Linked DNA regions of Homo sapiens. The protein of the gene in region 1 interacts with the protein of each later gene in a biochemical or structural test. Each region holds a gene or a part of one and is shown in the gene's direction. Other genes may lie near its edges.

The links. Proteins that work in one complex are often made in the same cells at the same time.
Region 2: the proteins of STRN4 (region 1) and TNIK form a complex in vitro, tested with the Homo sapiens proteins (one study listed by BioGRID).
Region 3: the proteins of STRN4 (region 1) and MAP4K1 form a complex in vitro, tested with the Homo sapiens proteins (one study listed by BioGRID).

Annotation. Positions count from the first base shown.
Region 1 is NC_000019.10:46,718,985-46,722,461, reverse strand, and holds the end of STRN4 (striatin-4), read left to right. Parts: intron 1-121; coding exon 122-220; intron 221-389; coding exon 390-476; intron 477-1,690; coding exon 1,691-1,860; 3' UTR 1,861-1,926; intron 1,927-2,123; 3' UTR 2,124-2,951; downstream 2,952-3,477. Other genes in the region: uncharacterized protein LOC107987269, read left to right, coding at 3,399-3,477. UniProt on the Homo sapiens protein: Calmodulin-binding scaffolding protein which is the center of the striatin-interacting phosphatase and kinase (STRIPAK) complexes.
Region 2 is NC_000003.12:171,065,369-171,072,405, reverse strand, and holds part of TNIK (TRAF2 and NCK-interacting protein kinase), read left to right. Parts: intron 1-1,082; coding exon 1,083-1,183; intron 1,184-3,408; coding exon 3,409-3,558; intron 3,559-5,670; coding exon 5,671-5,830; intron 5,831-6,079; coding exon 6,080-6,219; intron 6,220-7,037. UniProt on the Homo sapiens protein: Serine/threonine kinase that acts as an essential activator of the Wnt signaling pathway. Recruited to promoters of Wnt target genes and required to activate their expression. May act by phosphorylating TCF4/TCF7L2.
Region 3 is NC_000019.10:38,600,917-38,607,953, reverse strand, and holds part of MAP4K1 (mitogen-activated protein kinase kinase kinase kinase 1), read left to right. Parts: intron 1-42; coding exon 43-90; intron 91-938; coding exon of another isoform or gene 939-1,058; intron 1,059-1,738; coding exon 1,739-1,781; intron 1,782-2,223; coding exon 2,224-2,386; intron 2,387-2,462; coding exon 2,463-2,545; intron 2,546-6,259; exon of another isoform or gene 6,260-6,428; coding exon 6,429-6,513; exon of another isoform or gene 6,514-6,541; intron 6,542-7,037. UniProt on the Homo sapiens protein: Serine/threonine-protein kinase, which plays a role in the response to environmental stress. Appears to act upstream of the JUN N-terminal pathway.

The DNA of each region.
Region 1 (3,477 bases):
AGCCCCCCTCGACATCCAGGCAGAGGCTGGTGTAGGGGCTGTCACGCTGCGCTTGTGCCTCTGTTCTGGTCTTCCTGATTTTCTGCTTGACATCCTTCCCTCTTCCTGCGTTTTCCTTCAGGTCCAACCCAGATCAACCAAGTGGTGAGTCATCCAAACCAGCCTCTCACCATCACCGCCCACGACGACAGGGGCATCCGCTTCCTGGACAATCGGACAGGTGAGGCCTAGCCCCTTGTGCTCGTAGTGGGTGGGGAGGGCCAGAGGCAGGCAGCAGAGATGCTTGCGTCCCTGTGGGAGGCTCTGGGAGTCTCTCGTCCAGTCCTTTCACTCTCTCAGGCGAGGCCCAGAGTGGGAGGGGAACCTGCCACCCGCCCTTCTCGCCTCAGGTAAGCCGGTGCACTCCATGGTTGCACACCTGGACGCAGTCACCTGCCTAGCCGTGGACCCCAACGGCGCATTCCTGATGTCAGGAAGTAAGTTGAGCACACTAGTCCCACCAGGGTTGGGGAGAAGGGGAGGAAGAGGCCTGGGCACTGGCTCCAGGCAAGTGCTCAGGGGGCCCCGGGGGCCAGGGCTGGGGGAGGCTGGTCTGGGCGGGAATGACCGTGGTGACCATAGGGGGCAGCACAGTCCGCTGGGGCCCTCCTCTGGGTCACTGGAGCTGCATCGTCTCATTCGGCCTCTAAGCAGCCTGTGCGGTTGGTACTTTGATCCCCAGTTTACAGATGTGGGCCCTGATGCCCAGACGCTTTGTAACTTGGCCATTGAAGCTCTGTAACATCAGTCCAGGTCTACCTGGGGGTACCCGTGGGACTTCTGTGCTCCCACCCTGTTGTCTCTGGATAAGGGCATTGAGGCCAGCAACGTGGCTGTGCTTAGAAGGGATGGAGTGTGACGTGGGTGGGTGGAGAAGGAGACTGGAGGTCGCTGTGGGGGTGAAGGGTGAGGCCTGCAGTGAGTGCAGCAGTGAGTGTGTGTGCACAGAGGCGCAGGCCGTGGTGTTGGAGGCTGTGGCTGGGCTCTGCCTCCGGGCCTGTGCTGGCAGCCTCTGGTGGGTGAGGGGCTGGTCAGTGAGCTCCAGCCCAGTGCCCAGACAGGGCTCTATTCTGGGGGCCACTAGACAGTGGAGGGAGCTGAGCCTTTGCCCTGCCTGATCCTCTTGACCCTAAATTAAACTTCTCCTCGCCAGGGCCCTGCCCAGCCTGCCGTCCTCTCCCCTCTTCTCCCCAAGTCCCTGCTAAGGCTCTTGTGGCCACCCCCACCTCCTGCCTCAGGACCTTTCCCGCCTGTCCTTCTGCCTGGAAGGCTCCCTGCATTCCTCCTGGGGCCATTCTGTCCTCACACTGACCGGCTGGGTTGCTTTCTTCTTTCTCTTCCTGTTGCCCAGCTGCAGCGTCAGTGCTGCGGGGCAGGGAGAGTTGCCTGTTTTGTTCACTGCCCCTGCCGCCCTGGGGCTCAGTGTGCAGTAGCTGCTCAAGAAATGCTGGGGGATGAGATGGACTGTGGACAGGAGGGGACCAGGGTTCTCCTTTGGGCGGGCCACAGGAGGTGATGAGCAGAGGGTGAGAGAGGAGAGTTGAGCCCCACTTCCCCTGAGGCCTTTGGACAAGGCCAGGTGAGGGGTTCCAGGGCTGCGTCTGAGCGAGGAGCCCAGTGACCACCCCTTCTGTCCCCGACACATGTGCAGGCCATGACTGCTCCCTGCGTCTCTGGAGCCTGGACAACAAAACGTGCGTGCAGGAGATCACGGCCCACCGCAAGAAGCACGAGGAGGCCATCCACGCTGTTGCCTGCCACCCCAGCAAGGCCCTCATTGCCAGTGCTGGCGCTGATGCCCTGGCCAAGGTCTTCGTATGATGCCCACCTGGCCCTGCCCTGGCCGCCACGCTGGCTGGGGTGTAGGGCCGGGCAGGTGGGGCTGAGGTGAGGGCAGAAACCCCGCATTCTGAGTCTCTGCACGCCCATGCCTAGTACTGCCAGGTGTGCTGAGCCCCGCAGTCCAGTCAGGGGCGTCCTGTGAGAATCACTGGGGGAGCCCTGGGCATGCAGGGGAGGGGTTGAGGCCTTAGAGGCGCCCTAGAGGCGGCGGCTCAGTCTCCCCTCCCTTCTCTTTCCCGCAGGGGACTCCCAGCCTCGCTGGAGGTGCAGAGGCCTGGCCTCTGTCTGTTTGCCATGGAGCCTGGTGGTGCTAACGGCCCTTTCCCCAGGAATCCCTCCCCAACGGCTGCCTTCCCCAAGCATCCAGCCTGGGGATGGGCCCCTTTCAGGAATCACCCCCGAGGATGGCCTCGGGGTTTCCCCCTGTGCCCTGACAGCCGCTCCTGGTATCAGAGCTGCTTTCCAGAGGGCAGCACAGCCAGGGCCGGGTGTCTTTAGGGATCAGTTTTTCCAAGACTCCAGAAGGTGCCAGGTTCTCCCCTTGAGCTCCTGCTCCCCCATCCCCCATCCTCCCAGACCTGGGCAGGAGCTGTGCTGGGAGAAAGGGTGGCAGCCGGGAGCCTCAGAGCTGAGCCCCGGCCTGGCTGCCCCTCCCCTCCGGCCCTCTCCACTGCTTTCCAGACACTAACCAAGGCTTCCAGGCCAGGGATTGCCCAACACTCCTAGGGCAGCCCTCCCAGCGCCCCATGGGGTCGCCCATGGGTAGAGACGGCTTTCTTGTGCCCCTCCCTGGGGCATGGAGGGTGGAGTGGGCCTCGGGTCCCCCTGAACTCCCTGTATATCTGTATAAATAACGGGATTTTCATGGCGCCGCCCCACCCGCATTATCACTGTGTGATGGTCTCAGTCAGTCTCCTCCCTGTCTCCACTCTTTCCCTCTATTTATTTCACTCTCTTGTTTGGTTCTACCCTGCACCCTCGGTCCCCTTCCAGGTTCCTGTTTATAAGCCCCAACCCCTCTGTCCCCATCTTGTATGTGAAAACTTGTCTCAATAAACCCTTTGGAGTAAGATGGGTGACGGTGCCATCTGTTGAGGGCACTGGGGACTTTGGGGGAGGAGTGACCGGCTCTGCCTGGGTTGGGTGGAGTTTGGAGAGAGGGGATATGATGGGTTGGGGTTTTGTGGTAGGGCAGCAGGGGCCGGAGACGGGCCCAGAGCTTGGGTGGGGTGTGGGTGGAGAGAAGTGGAGGCACTGGACCGAATCTCCTTGTGCCCTTTCTGTCCCTAAGTGCTCCCTCCCCAGGGGTAGAGCCCTGGGGAGCAGATACTATGATGACAGTCCAGCTGAAGCCTCAGCCCCGCCTGGGATGTGTGAGGGTGGTGGCGAGGCCAAAGGGCTGGTGCCCAGAGGACGTAAACCCCCTTCCTGTTCCCATCCCAGGCCCACAAGGAGCAGGGAGGGAAAAGGCTGCACCTGCCAGTGGAGGATGATGGCTTTGGGGCGCAGGCTCCTCCATGCTGGGAGGAGGTGCCGCAGGTGCCCGAGCCCTCGTGGCTCATGTCCTGATGCGTCCCTCCTTTCCCTTCTCAGTGG
Region 2 (7,037 bases), on another chromosome or scaffold:
TGGATCTTTTCCTAGGTTTCAGATGAAGAGATCAGCAAAAATAGTCTAATAAACACTTTATGTCATGAAAAGTTATAAAGCAAGTAACTGGAAACTTAATGTCATTTAAGTATATTAAAATTTTTCCTACCTAGTTTCTTTAGGACTCAGAATATTCTGTTTCTTGAGATATTTTACCAAGAAACTGACTGCCATGTGTACCAACTGTGGATTACGAATTCTCTAAGAATTAGAATCCACACTTAACAGCAAAAGATTCAGAAGGCACTTAAAGGATTGTTCAATTTCTCAAGGTCATCACCGTAAACATTGCTTATTATTCTATCAGAGACACACACGTAGGTAAGAGTAATGAAGAGAATGCCAGACAACAGTCTGTTCTTCCATTTTTCCATTCAATAAGCATTTATTGAGTACTACTTTGTGTAGGCAAAAGCATTGTGGGGACTCAATCATTTAACTAAGCTTCTGTCCATAGAATTTACAATGCTTAATATTCCATCTTTCTAAAGAGTAAAAGGATTTGTCAGTATTCGTAGCCCTTTAAGCCACTAACAGAACCCAAGACTCCTAACACCCCCCTTTCGTTAGAAGCATAAATAAGCAATTATTTCACTTGGTAATTGGAATTCAAATATAAATAATAAGCAAATGGCAGCCTTTATATCTGCCCATTTGCTAATTTTTCTACCATCTTGCCATATCTGCTCTCAGCTACTTAAATATGGGTGAACGTAAAAGCCAGGCAAGCTAACATGAAGGAAATTATGCACATTCTTATTACAATGAATATCAACATCAAGACCTAGTGTTAAAGACAGTCCTAAGCAGTTATATCTCTGGATGATGAAAAGTCTTCAATATAAAGCAAAAGCCATAAGTATTCTGCCAACCAAAGTTCGCTAAGGGAAGCTAAATCAGTATCTATGAAAAAATCCCACACCAGGAATATCACCTTCATGAAGCTGACACCCAACATCAATATTTAAATTTACATATTGTTGCTTATACATTCATTAATATTAATACAAAGAACTTGAGTAAATTGATGTACTTTTTCACTCATAATTTTTCTATTACAGTTAAATATGAAAGGATCAAATTTTTGGTGATTGCCTTAAAGAATGCTGTGGAAATATATGCTTGGGCTCCTAAACCGTATCATAAATTCATGGCATTTAAGGTAAGCAGGGATGTGATTATCTAAAATGTGCTTTTTAAAAATTTTCCGTTTCTACCCATTAATAAAATAGTCCATATAGACCAATACCAATTTTCATATAGATAATAAACCTGTTTTAAAAGTGTAGGTACTCTAGGGTTTATTGTTTCAAAAGTAAAGACTGAATATTTGTAAATGCTATAAAATTAGATTAAAATTTGGGTATGCCCTCCTCCTTGAGATCTATGAATCATCATCCTCAAGAGGCATTTAGAATGGTTAGTAGGCATAGCATTGATTATGATCTTATGCAATGACATTTGTTATAAAGCCACCTAAACCAGGGTATTCCCTGATATTTTGTTTGAAAAAGGCAGACAAATGGCAGCACTGAATCTCAGAGTTAAACTGAGTCTCTTTTAATCCTCATAAATCTTTCTGAATGAAGTCCCTAAAACTCAGGTGATGCTTATATGTCCCCAGTGCTAACTTACAGAAATGACCTAGTTTCTCTGCATTCTTCTATTTTGATTGCCTTTTCATTTTTTTACCTTGTCTAAGTCTGTACCCACCATGGTTGGATTGGTCACTCATGAGATTTGCCAGGAGTGGGATGGGGATATGCTAGTCCTGTTGACCCCAGCTCATGAAGCTGACACCCGAATACCAGGAGGACCAGTACTTACAGGCACCCAGATGTGTTCAGAGCCGCATAACCTATCCATAGCCCAAGTGAACTTATCTTCTGTTTTCTCTCACTCTCTCTCTCTGATCTCTCTCTGTCTCTCTCTCTCTCAGCTTATGTCTGTCTACTTCTTTATGTCTCATTGGCTCTCACTTTTTCTCCCCACCTTTATGACTGTTATCTCCATTTGGCTCCTTATTATTTTCTGCCACATTCTCATGAAGGGCAAAACTGCCCTTGGAACACCATGTAGGCCCACTTCAGAGCTGAATCACTTCTATCTTGTTCCCTTAGGGCAGATGGCTTCTGATGTGCTCAAGAAAATAGATTCATTAATGGAAATGGGCTCCCCTCCATGACCTCACTTTTATGGAAAAAAATTGGAATGCATTAGGTTACTAATAACAAGGGATAACTCCTAAAAGCCAAAGTGGTACTCCTGTTCTGCCAAAATCTATCTCCACAAAAGCTTTTCAATCAACATCCCATTCCCATTCTTGCTCTGAAGTTATTGCCATTATTTTATGACCCAGAGACACATGAGAGAGTGCAAAATGTTCTTTCTGACAGACCCTATCCAGCCCAGAAAGAGGGAAGAGCAAAGGCAAAGACTTGAACAGGAAAGAGTGGAACTGGCAAGAGGCCAAGCCTTCCCATAGGACAAGGACAGGACGCTAGAGCTTCCCATGCTGTCAGAATGGTGTTAGCAAAAGATGAGAAGAGAAGGGTCTGAGAGGTAGCAGTGGCATTATAGTTAAGGCAATTGTAGTTTCACAAATGCTCTCCCAGATCTCAAGGCCCAAAGGTAGAGCGTGGTTAAAAAATAGCAAAGGAAAATGGCAGAGGAACACTTGACAGTTAGTTGGGGCTTGGGCTCTGGATTCAAACACAGAGAACTTTGACAAACTTGGCAAGATCTCTCTTTTTGCTTTCTAGTTAAACCCAAATAGTCAATGCAAGCCATCAATCTTGTGATGTTCCACTCCCACCTCTTTCTCTACCACCCAAACCCAAGTCTCAGATTCCAACATTAAGAGAAAGTGCCAATCTTATGCCTACTCATTCACTGAAGAAAAATCCAAACCAGAGCATGCCCATTAATACTAAACAGGCTGAGAAAACAGCCGGCCTTGGCTGTCCCTCCCAGGCTGTCTCTGAAAGGGTAGTTGCTGTGGATGGGCCTGGTTGCCACATGGGAAAGAGGGGGGCCAGAGAGGTGACTGGGCCTTCTTCAGAGGACAAAGGCCAGAAATAAACAGGAAAAAACAGCAATACCCAGGCACCAGGTTTTTAATATACATTACCACTATCAAAATTTACACCTGTGCACCAACTTAAACTTCACTGCCCCGAAGGACAAAGGGTAGAGAAAGGGGCACAAATGGATGCTAGACCCTTCCTCCTAGGGCCAGAATATCAACAGACCTAAAACTGAAAGAGAAATTTTCTAGTTTTTCACTTTAATAAAGTTAGAAGTTAACTTCCTCTAGACAGTGGCTAAAGGAAAAAAATTAAGATGCCTCTTTGAGTGATGCGGATACTAATGGGGTGATTTTTAAAGTCTTTTGCAGATCTCCAGCACAAGCCTCTGCTAGTTGATCTCACGGTAGAAGAAGGTCAAAGATTAAAGGTTATTTTTGGTTCACACACTGGTTTCCATGTAATTGATGTTGATTCAGGAAACTCTTATGATATCTACATACCATCTCATGTAAGTACTCAGAAGTAGACTTTCAAGGGCTCTCTGTACAACAGCCTGCATGTAGAAAGAGATTTGTTTTGCATAGTTTTAGTAGAAGTCATGCACACTTTACTAACCAGCAAATGGACTTTCGTTCTTCATTAAGTATACTGCTTTTAATAACTAAAATATATAAATTTAACTAATTTTTATGACTTCCTAAAATTGGGGAATACATAATAGAAATCATTTGGCATTTACATGTTGTCTCTTTGGACTTTAGATTAAAATGAATATGACATATTTCTTTCAAGGGCATGAATTATATTCGGTAGACAAGTTTCCACATTCAGTTTTTGAAGGGAAATTCGTTCATTTTATGTTAGAGAAAGCCAATGGTCAGGTACTAATTTATTGGAGAAAATTCTTTTTTTGCTATTTTTAGTTCCTCTCTTCAGCTTGAGGGCAGTGTGGTACACTGGAGTCAGACACAGTGGCTCTAGCATGTATTAGCTTTGCAGTAATGGACACAGTAGGCAGCCTCTCCAATCCTCAGCTTTCGCATCTGTAAAATATGGATAAAAAGACTTATCCCATAGGATTATCATTAGTATTAAATGAGGTAATGGATCTAAAGCAGTTGGTACAGGGCCCTGCAAATTGTAGATCTTCTTATTAGCCCTAAAATATTCATATTACTATCCTGACATATTGCTTGAAACATAACTGTTAAAGGGAAATGCTGCACATGGATTCACTTATTAGGATTAAGTGTAGTGTAAAGTGTGTGTCCTGTGTGTAATCCCAAGACTAACACACAGGAGAAACTATTTATCAGGAATGTTTGAAGCTACCGCTGACTGGTATTTTGAGAGTTTTAAGACTTTATTCTAATGAAACGCAATAACTAAAAGAAGTTGTTTCAGTATATTACATACACACACACGACTGCCATTCATTGCTGCATTATTACCACTTTTAACTCATGTGGATGTGGGTGAACACAAGGACTCACAGCTCACATTCCTGGTGAGGCAGCTAAGGTGTAACTATGATAATCCTCAACTCTCTTAGTCCAATCTGTCAAGCACATGTTGGGCTGCCATGGCATTCTCAACTAGGGGATCACAACAACATCACATTTCCTTTCCTAGAACAAATTAATATACACTTATTTCAATAGTGATTTTTTTTTTTTTTTTTTTGGATACGGAGTCTCGCTCTGTCACCCAAGCTGGAGTACAGTGGCGTGATCTCGGCTCACTGCAAGCTCCGCCTCTCCTGGGTTCACACCATTCTCCTGCCTCAGCCTCCCGAGTAGCTGGGACTACAGGTGCCCACCATCATGCCCGGCTAATTTTTTGTATTTTTAGTAGAGACGGGGTTTCATCGTGTTAGCCAGGATGGTCTCGATCTCCTGACGTCGTGATCCGCCCGCCTCGGCCTCCCAAAGTGCTGGGATTACAGGCATGAGCCACTGTGTGCGGCAATAATGATTTTTTTTAATGAGTGGTCATTCTAAATATTTTTTCTAACCAAGCCATGAATTATTCTGGCATTTAGACACCCGGATAAACAATCCTATATATATATTTTTTTTTCACAGATTATTTTGGTAGTTCATTTTGACCCCACTTAAGCTATCTCCATTAGATTCAGCTGGCTTACATTCTCCTCATCTTCTTTTGGAAGTGGTTGTGCTAATAGAAAACACATTAATTTCAACGTCAGCAAGATATACACAAATCCCAACTCTACCAACAAATACTAGCACAACTTTGGTTAAGACACAAAGCCCTTCTGAGATGCAGTTTCCTCATCTGTAAACAAAGCTATCTACCTTGGGGAGCTATTGTAGGTACTAGAAATTATATATGTAAAGGGCCCCATGACTGGCACATAGTAGGTGTGCCATAGATTTACATGCTCTTTTTAGGAACAGGTAAATTGAATTTTTAATCTAGTGACTAAGTTTGATTTACCAGGGTATTTTACAAGTCAGTGGTTAAATTAAAGCAAATTTCAGTCTTTAGGGTGACAATGAAAATAAACAAAAACCTCTTTTTTGCAGTTGTTAGAGATGAATAGTCAAGGTGTTTTATTTTTTAAAAGAATAATGCTTGGCTTTTCTTTGTCTTCTAGATTCAGGGCAATATCACTCCTCATGCTATTGTCATCTTGCCTAAAACAGATGGAATGGAAATGCTTGTTTGCTATGAGGATGAGGGGGTGTATGTAAACACCTATGGCCGGATAACTAAGGATGTGGTGCTCCAATGGGGAGAAATGCCCACGTCTGTGGGTAGGTTAACCATTCCTTATCTCCTTCAGCAGTTACACCCCCCAAATGAAACGAAAATCAAGAAATGTGAAACAACCATTTGATTCCACAAAAAAAAAAAAAAAAAAATCTGTGAATAACTCTTGTAAGACTTGCTTTGTCCATTTATCTCAAGTCGTTTGTCATTTTTGTGGTTAAGATGTGAACAGATGCTGTGAGTTATTGCCCATCTAATGTTTTTAATGCAGTTTTGGAAATTCCTTTTGACAGCCTACATTCATTCCAATCAGATAATGGGCTGGGGCGAGAAAGCTATTGAGATCCGGTCAGTGGAAACAGGACATTTGGATGGAGTATTTATGCATAAGCGAGCTCAAAGGTTAAAGTTTCTATGTGAAAGAAATGATAAGGTAAATCCGTTTCAACATTTGCATTAGTGTTTGCATTTTAAGAGACCACCAGGTACCTGTGAAACCTTCATTTTCCTTTATACTGATTTGAATCACATCTGTGTTAAACAATCAATATTATCTTGAAATGGCATTATTTGGTTTGATCCATGTGAGCACTCAATATATTATTCACATGTCAAAAACTACATAAAAACATTTAGAAATTTCTTGTAAACCTCTTAGAAACCTTTGTGGCCTAAAGGCCTTTTGATGACTCAGCAGACACCCCAAATTCTCCTAAGCACTTAGAGCAGTTGGCCCATCATTAATCATCTCACAGTGGGTCAACTTTATACTTCCACTTTTAGACTTTTCACAAAGTCACTTTCAAGACCTAACCAATCACCTTATATTCACCTTTAAATCCAAAACATTTGACGTTTAGAAATATAAGCTTTTTAAAAATGTCACCCATTCCTTAAGGAATGCACAATCACAAACTCAACTAGTGCCATGTCTTGTGTCATTCCAGCCATGTTTCTTCTGAAATGTCATAGGTGAACTGTTTTCCAGTGAAATTGGCTGTGTCCGTCTGGCATGATCAGTGACCTCAGAGGGGTATTCTGCAGCAGTACTGCTTCTCCCTTACCCTCCCTGTAGAGTAACCCCGAGGTTTTAGTAGCTAAGCCATACTGCATTTGTGAATTCATCCTTTGTGGCTGTGGCCAACATAGAAATGCTGTCCCCAAAGCCACAGACATAAACGCCTATAGAAAAACAGTATGATGGGTTGAATTTTTGTATATCCCTTTGTCCACCCCAGTTCCCCAAAGGTC
Region 3 (7,037 bases), 8.1 Mb from region 1:
ATGTGGACAAGGCCCCCAAGGCTCATACCTGTCACCCTTCAGGAAGCAACTGTCAGAGTCGTCTGACGATGACTATGACGACGTGGACATGTAAGTGAGGCCCTGCCTGCAGCTCCACAGGCCCCACCTCAGCCCCCACCTTCCTACAATCCCCTGATGTGGCCTTTCCTCCACTCCTGACCCCGCTGCACCCCTGCCTTTCTTCTAGCCCCGAGCCCTGAGCCCTGATTAGACCCTCAATGCAGCCCCTCTGCCCAGCTACCTAGGCCCTGTTCCCTAACCCCACCTCCCTTAACCCTTCACCTCCAACCCCTGACCCCCAACCTGATCCCAGCTCCAGCTCCCACTTTCCTTCTTTCCTTCCACCTTCTTCTTTTTTTTTTTTTTTTTTTTTGAGATGGAGTCTCACTCTGTGGCCCAGGCTGGAGTGCAGTGACGTAGTCTCAGCTCACTACAACCTCGGCTCCCCGGGTTCAAGCGATTCTCCTGTCTCAGCCTCCTGAGTAGCTGGGATTACAGGCACCTGCCACCATGCCCAGCTAATTTTTTGTATTTTTAGTAGAGATGGGGTTTCACCATGTTGGCCAGGCTGGTTTCAAACTCCTGACCTCATGATCCGCCCATCTCAGCCTCCCAAAGTGCTGCGATTACAGGTGTGAGCCACTGCACTTGGCCTCCTTCCATCTTCTTATACAATCTTTTGACTTGACCCTCAGCGTCAGCCCCCCACCTGCTCTCCACCCCAGAGCTGACCCCAGTTCCTTCTAGAATGTGCTGCTGCTCCAATCTCTGACTTGACCCCACCTATCCTCCATGACCCTGCACCCTCAGCCACATCCCAGTCTCAAACTCCTCCCGAATGTCACTCTCACCCCAGACCCACCCTCCAGCCTTCAGCCCCAGCCCTCAGCTTTTCCTATCTTTTTGCCCGCCCTCAGGCTGAACCTTGGCACCTGGAAATCTCCCAAAGACCAGATACTGAGCCCCAGATCCAGACCCAACAGTCAGCCCAGGCCCCCATACTCCCCAGCCCACAGGCCGAGTCAGGCTCCATCCAGGTGCGCGCACTCACTTCACCCATCACGTGCGACAGCCTGTGTGTGGCGCCAGCACAGGGAGAGCAGGGCCACGGCGCTGATGTCACCTGTGTTACTAGGTGGTGTAAAGGTGCAAAGCCGTGGTGCACTGTCAGCACTCCACCTCCAAGAGTTGCTGTTACTGTTATTAGTCTTTTTTTTGGAAACAGGCTAATCATTTTTTTGTAGGATGGGGTCTTGCCATGTTGTCCAGGCTGGTCTCAAACTCATGATTTGTTTTGGCACCAAGGCTAAGTGCAGGAGTGCAATGATGGCTTACTGCAGCCTCAACCTCCCAGGCTCAAGCAATCCTCCCACCTCAGCCTCCTGAGTAGCTGCGGTCACAGGCGCACCTGCCACGCCTGGCTAATTTTTAATTTTTTTCTGGAGACAAGGTCTTGCTATGCTGCCCAGGCTAGTCTCGAATTCCTGGGCTCAAGCCATCCTGCCCTGGCCTCCCAAAGCACTGCGATTACAGGCATGAGCCACTATGTCCAGCCTGGCTATTAATCCTTTAATCCTCTGCTCCAGGCAGAACCAGTCATCCCTTAATCCTCCTCACCTCAGACCCCAGTCCCGGGCCTCCAGCCCAGAACCATGCCATCTTCCCCGAGTCCTTGTTCCCCAGCCCCCCAGCTATTTAACCCATCTTTGTGTTTCAGCCCCACCCCTGCAGAGGACACACCTCCTCCACTTCCCCCCAAGGTAAGGCCCTGGGCCAGAGCTGGGAGGCTGGGGCCTCAGGGCCACTGGGGGCCAGGAGGCCAGGTCCTTAGATGCTGGGATACTGGGCTCTCCAGGGCAGGGAATTGGGGAGACCAGGATGATGGCTACATTGGGATCTGGAAGTGGCATCCCTCAACCTCAGGGTCGGATTCAAAATATTTAGCCTCTTAGACACTGGTCAGTAGCTGGTCCTAGGAAGCCCCTGCTATATATCCAGCATTAACCCATTAGTTTCTGAAGTGTGTTGATGTCCAGGCTGGGGATGTCAGGGGAAGGCTGGAGGGGGCACAAGATGTTGTCGGGGGGGTGGGTCAGAGCCACAGCTGTTAGTTCTGGTGGAGGCAGGGACTTGAGTTGCAAAAGGGTGCCCTCTCTGAGATCATCTGATGTATTTCCCCACGCTCCATTCCCGTCTCCAAAGCCCAAGTTCCGTTCTCCATCAGACGAGGGTCCTGGGAGCATGGGGGATGATGGGCAGCTGAGCCCGGGGGTGCTGGTCCGGTGTGCCAGTGGGCCCCCACCAAACAGCCCCCGTCCTGGGCCTCCCCCATCCACCAGCAGCCCCCACCTCACCGCCCATTCAGGTAATGGGACAGGCTAGGGTGGAGGGCGGGAGGGTTGGGGGTTCTTGGGGGCTGATTTTCTCCTAACCCCTCTCAGAACCCTCACTCTGGAACCCACCCTCCCGGGAGCTTGACAAGCCCCCACTTCTGCCCCCCAAGAAGGAAAAGATGAAGAGAAAGGTGAGGTTCAGCTCTGCTGAGGACTTACACCTCTGGACGGGGCTGGGGATGCCTGGTGGGGTGGGGAGGGGGTGGCAGGACTGACAGTAACAACAGGTGACATTTGTTGAGCGCTTCTCTGTGCCCTACACTTATCTCCTATCATTACATGGCATAAAGCTTCACAGAGTGAAGAAGATATCACAGAGATGTTATCCCCCATTTCACAAATGGGGAAATTGAAGCACAGAGAGGGTAAGTGGCTTACCCAAGGTCATATAAATACCTTTGAGGAGGCAGGCTGAGGCAGGATTGTTGTTTCTGCTTTTTTTTTTTTTTTTTTAAAGACGGAGTTTTGCTTGTTGCCCAGGCTAGAGTACAGTGGCGCGATCTTAGCTCACTACAACCTCCGCCTCCCTAGTTCAAGTGATTCTCCTGCCTCAGCCTCCGGAGTAGCTGAGATTACAGGCAATGCAGCACCATGCCCGGCTAATTTTGTATTTTTAGTAGAGGTGGGGTTTCACCATGTTGGTTAGGCTCGTCTTGAACTCCTGACCTCAGGTGATCCACCTGCCTCGGCCTCCCAAAGTGCTGGGATTACAGGCATGAGCCACCGCGTCTGGCATGCTTTTTTTTTTTTGAGACAGAGTCTCACTGTGTCACCCAGGCTGGAGTGCAGTGGCGCGATCTCGGCTCACTGCAAGCTCCGCCTCCCAGGTTCACACCATTCTCCTGCCTCAGCCTCCCGAGTAGCTGGGACTACAGGTGCCCGCCACCAGGCCCGGCTAATTTTTTGTATTTTTAGTAGAGACGGGGTTTCACCGTGTTAGCCAGGATGGTCTCGATCTCCTGACCTTGTGATCTGCCCGCCTCGGCCTCCCAAAGTGCTGGGATTACAGTCATGAGCCACCGCGCCCAGCTACTAAAAATTTAAAAAATTAGCTGGGCGTGGTGGCACACACCTATGGTCCCAGCTACTTGGGAAGCTGAGGTGGGAGGATTGCTTGAGTCCAGAAGTTAGAGTCTTTTGACAAGATCCATCAAAACCTCCATGAGTCACTACCACATATGCAGTTGCCCAAAGAGCCAAGATCTCAAGAAATTTTACCTCTCATAAATGGAGATGTACAAAAAGAACATCTCTTTATTCAGGAAGTTTCAGTGTTTTTACGTACATGCATAATGCCTACACACGTAGTCAGTGTTGTGATAATGCACCTTTGTGGCATCAAATTTGCCAACAAATGCATAAAATGAATTAGAACTCTCTAAAGTCTTTTTTTTTTTTTTTTTTTTTTTTTGAGATAGTATCTCGCTCTGTCGCCCAGGCTGCTGGAGTGCAGTGGCGCGATCATGGCTCACTGCAGCCTTGACCTCGGAGACTCAAGCAATCCATGCACCTCACCCTCCCTAGTAGCGCTTGGCTAATTTTTTTTTTTTTTTTCTGAGATGGAGTCTCACTCTGTCGCCCAGGCTGGAGTGCAGTGGTGCTATCTTGGCTCACTGCAACCTCTGCCTCCCCAGTCTAAGTGATCCTCCTGCCTCAGCCTCCTAAGTAGCCATGACTACAGGCGCCCACCACCACGCCCAGCTAATTTTTGTATTTTTAGTAGAGACGGAGTTTTGCCATGTTGGCCAGGCTGGTCTCAAACTCCTGACCTCAAGTTATCTGCCAGCCTCGGCCTCCCAAAGTGCTGGCATTACAGGCGTGAGCCACCGCGCCCGGCCCAGCTTGGCTAATTTTTAAAAAAATGTTTTATAGAGGCAGGGTCTCACTATGTTGCCCAAGCTGGTCCTGAACTCCTGGGCTTAAGTGATCCTCCCACCTCGGCCTCCCAAACTGGTGGGATTACAGCCGTGCCTGGTTGGCTACCGGCTAAAAGTATGTATAATTTATACCTCCAGCACTGGAAATGATTCAAAGATGAAATGCATAGCATAATTAATCATACATATATACATATACATATATACACACACATATACATGTATATGTGTGTATATATGTATACGTGTATATATATGTATATGCATATATATGTACATGTGTATATATGTATATGTGTGTATATATGTATATGTGTATATATGTATATGCGTATATATGTACATGTGTATATATGTATACATGTATGTGTGTGTGTATATGTATGTGTATATATGTATATGCGTATATATGTACATGTGTATATATATGTGTATATGTATATGTGTATATATGTATGTGTATATATGTATATGCGTATATATGTACATGTGTATATATGTATACATGTATATGTGTGTATATATGTATATGCGTATATATGTACATGTGTATATATGTACATGTGTATATATGTACATGTGTATATATGTATATGTGTATATGTATATGCGTATATATGTACATGTGTATATATGTATACATGTATATGTGTGTATATATGTATATGTATATATGTATATGCGTATATATGTGCATGTGTATATGTGTGTATATATGTATGTGTATATATGTATATGCGTATATGTGTACATGTGTGTATATATGTACATGTGTATATAAGTATATATGTACATGTGTATATATGTATATGTGTATATATGTATATGCGTATATATGTACATGTGTATATATGTATATATGTATGTGTGTATATATGTATATGTGTATATATGTATATGCGTATATATGTACATGTGTATATATGTATACATGTATATGTGTGTATATATGTATACATGTATATGTGTGTATATATGTATATGCGTATATATGTACATGTGTATATATGTATATATGTATAGGTGTGTATATATATGTATATGTGTATATATATGTATATGCGTATATATGTACATGTGTATATATATGTATATATGTATATGTGTGTATATATATGTATATGTGTATATATGTATATGCGTATATATGTACACGTGTATATATGTATATATGTATATGTGTGTATATATGTATATGTGTGTATATATGTATGTGTGTGTGTATATATATGTGTGTGTGTGTGTGTGTGTCTATATATATATGTATATGTGTATATATATATATGCTGGCCAGGCACAGTGGCTCATGCCTGTAATCCCAGCACTTTGGGAGACCAAGGCAGACGCATCACCTGAGGTCAGGAGTTCGAGACCAGCCTGGCCAACATGGCGAAACCCTGTCTCTACTAAAATACAAAAATTAGCCAGGCGTGGTGTTGTGTGCCAGTAATCCCAGCTATTCAGGAGGCTGAGGCAGAAGAATTGCTTGAGCCCAGGAGGTGGAGGTTGCAGTGAGCTGAGATTGCATCACTGCACTCCAGCCTGGGCAACAGAGTGAGACTCCATCTCCAAAAACAAAACTGACAGCTGGGAGTGGTGCCTCACGCCTGTAATCTCAGCACTTTGGGAGGCTGAGGCAGGTGAATCACATGAGGCCAAGAGTTCAAGACCAGCCTGGGCAACATGGCAAAACTCCATCTCTACTAAAAATACAAAAATTAGCTGGGTGTGGTGGCACACGCCTTTGGTCCCAGCTACTCAGAAGGCTTAGGCATGAGAATCAGTTGAACTTGGGAAGCAGAGGTTGTAGTGAGCTGAGATCATGTCATTGCATTCCAGCCTGGGCAACCGAGTGAGACTCTGTCTTAAAAAAAACAAATGCTGATGATTTAGGATAGTGGAGGAAAAACTAAAAAAAGAAATATATAACAACAACAAAAAAAAACAAAAACAAACTGAAAAGAAAACTCAATGTATGAAAAAGTGTATTACAGGGATAGATTATGGGAAATTGCACCAAGGTAAGAGGCAGGATTTGAACCTTGGCACTCTCGCTCCAAAGTCGTAACCACTGCCCCTTCCTGTTCCCTGCTCTCTTTGCCGGATCTGCTGCCTGGCCCCGCGGCGACCTGCCCAGGGATGTGCCCTTCTCGTAAAGTTGTTCAATGGCTGCCCCCTCCGGATCCACAGCACGGCCGCCTGGACACATCCCTCCACCAAGGGTGGGCATTCTGGAGGGTCAAGGAGATCCTGTAGGGAATGGGAGAGCAAAAGTAGGGGTGGGGAGAAGCCTAAGGAAGGCACAAAGGCAGGGACGGGGAGGAGCTTAATGGAGTTGGGGTGTGGCCAGGCTGAAACAGGGGCGGAGCTTGTCCTTACACTCAGGATTTGGTGATCAAAGATGCATAGAGGGCAGCCAGGTGTGGTGGCTCACACCTGTAATCCCAGCACTTTGGGAGGCTGAGGCGGGTGAATCATTTGAGGTCAGGAGTTCAAGACCAGCCTGGCCAACATGGTGAAACCCCGTCTCTACTAAAAATACAAAAGAAGCTAGGTAGGCCGGGCATGGTGGCTCACGCCTGTAATCCCAGCACTTTGGGAGGCGGAGGCGGGCGGATCATTTGAGGTCAGGAGTTTGAGACCAGCCTGGCCAACGTGGTAAAACCTCGTCTCTACTAAAAACACAAAAATTAGCCAGGCGTGGTAGCACGTGCCTATAATCCCAGCTACTCAGGAGGCTGAGGCA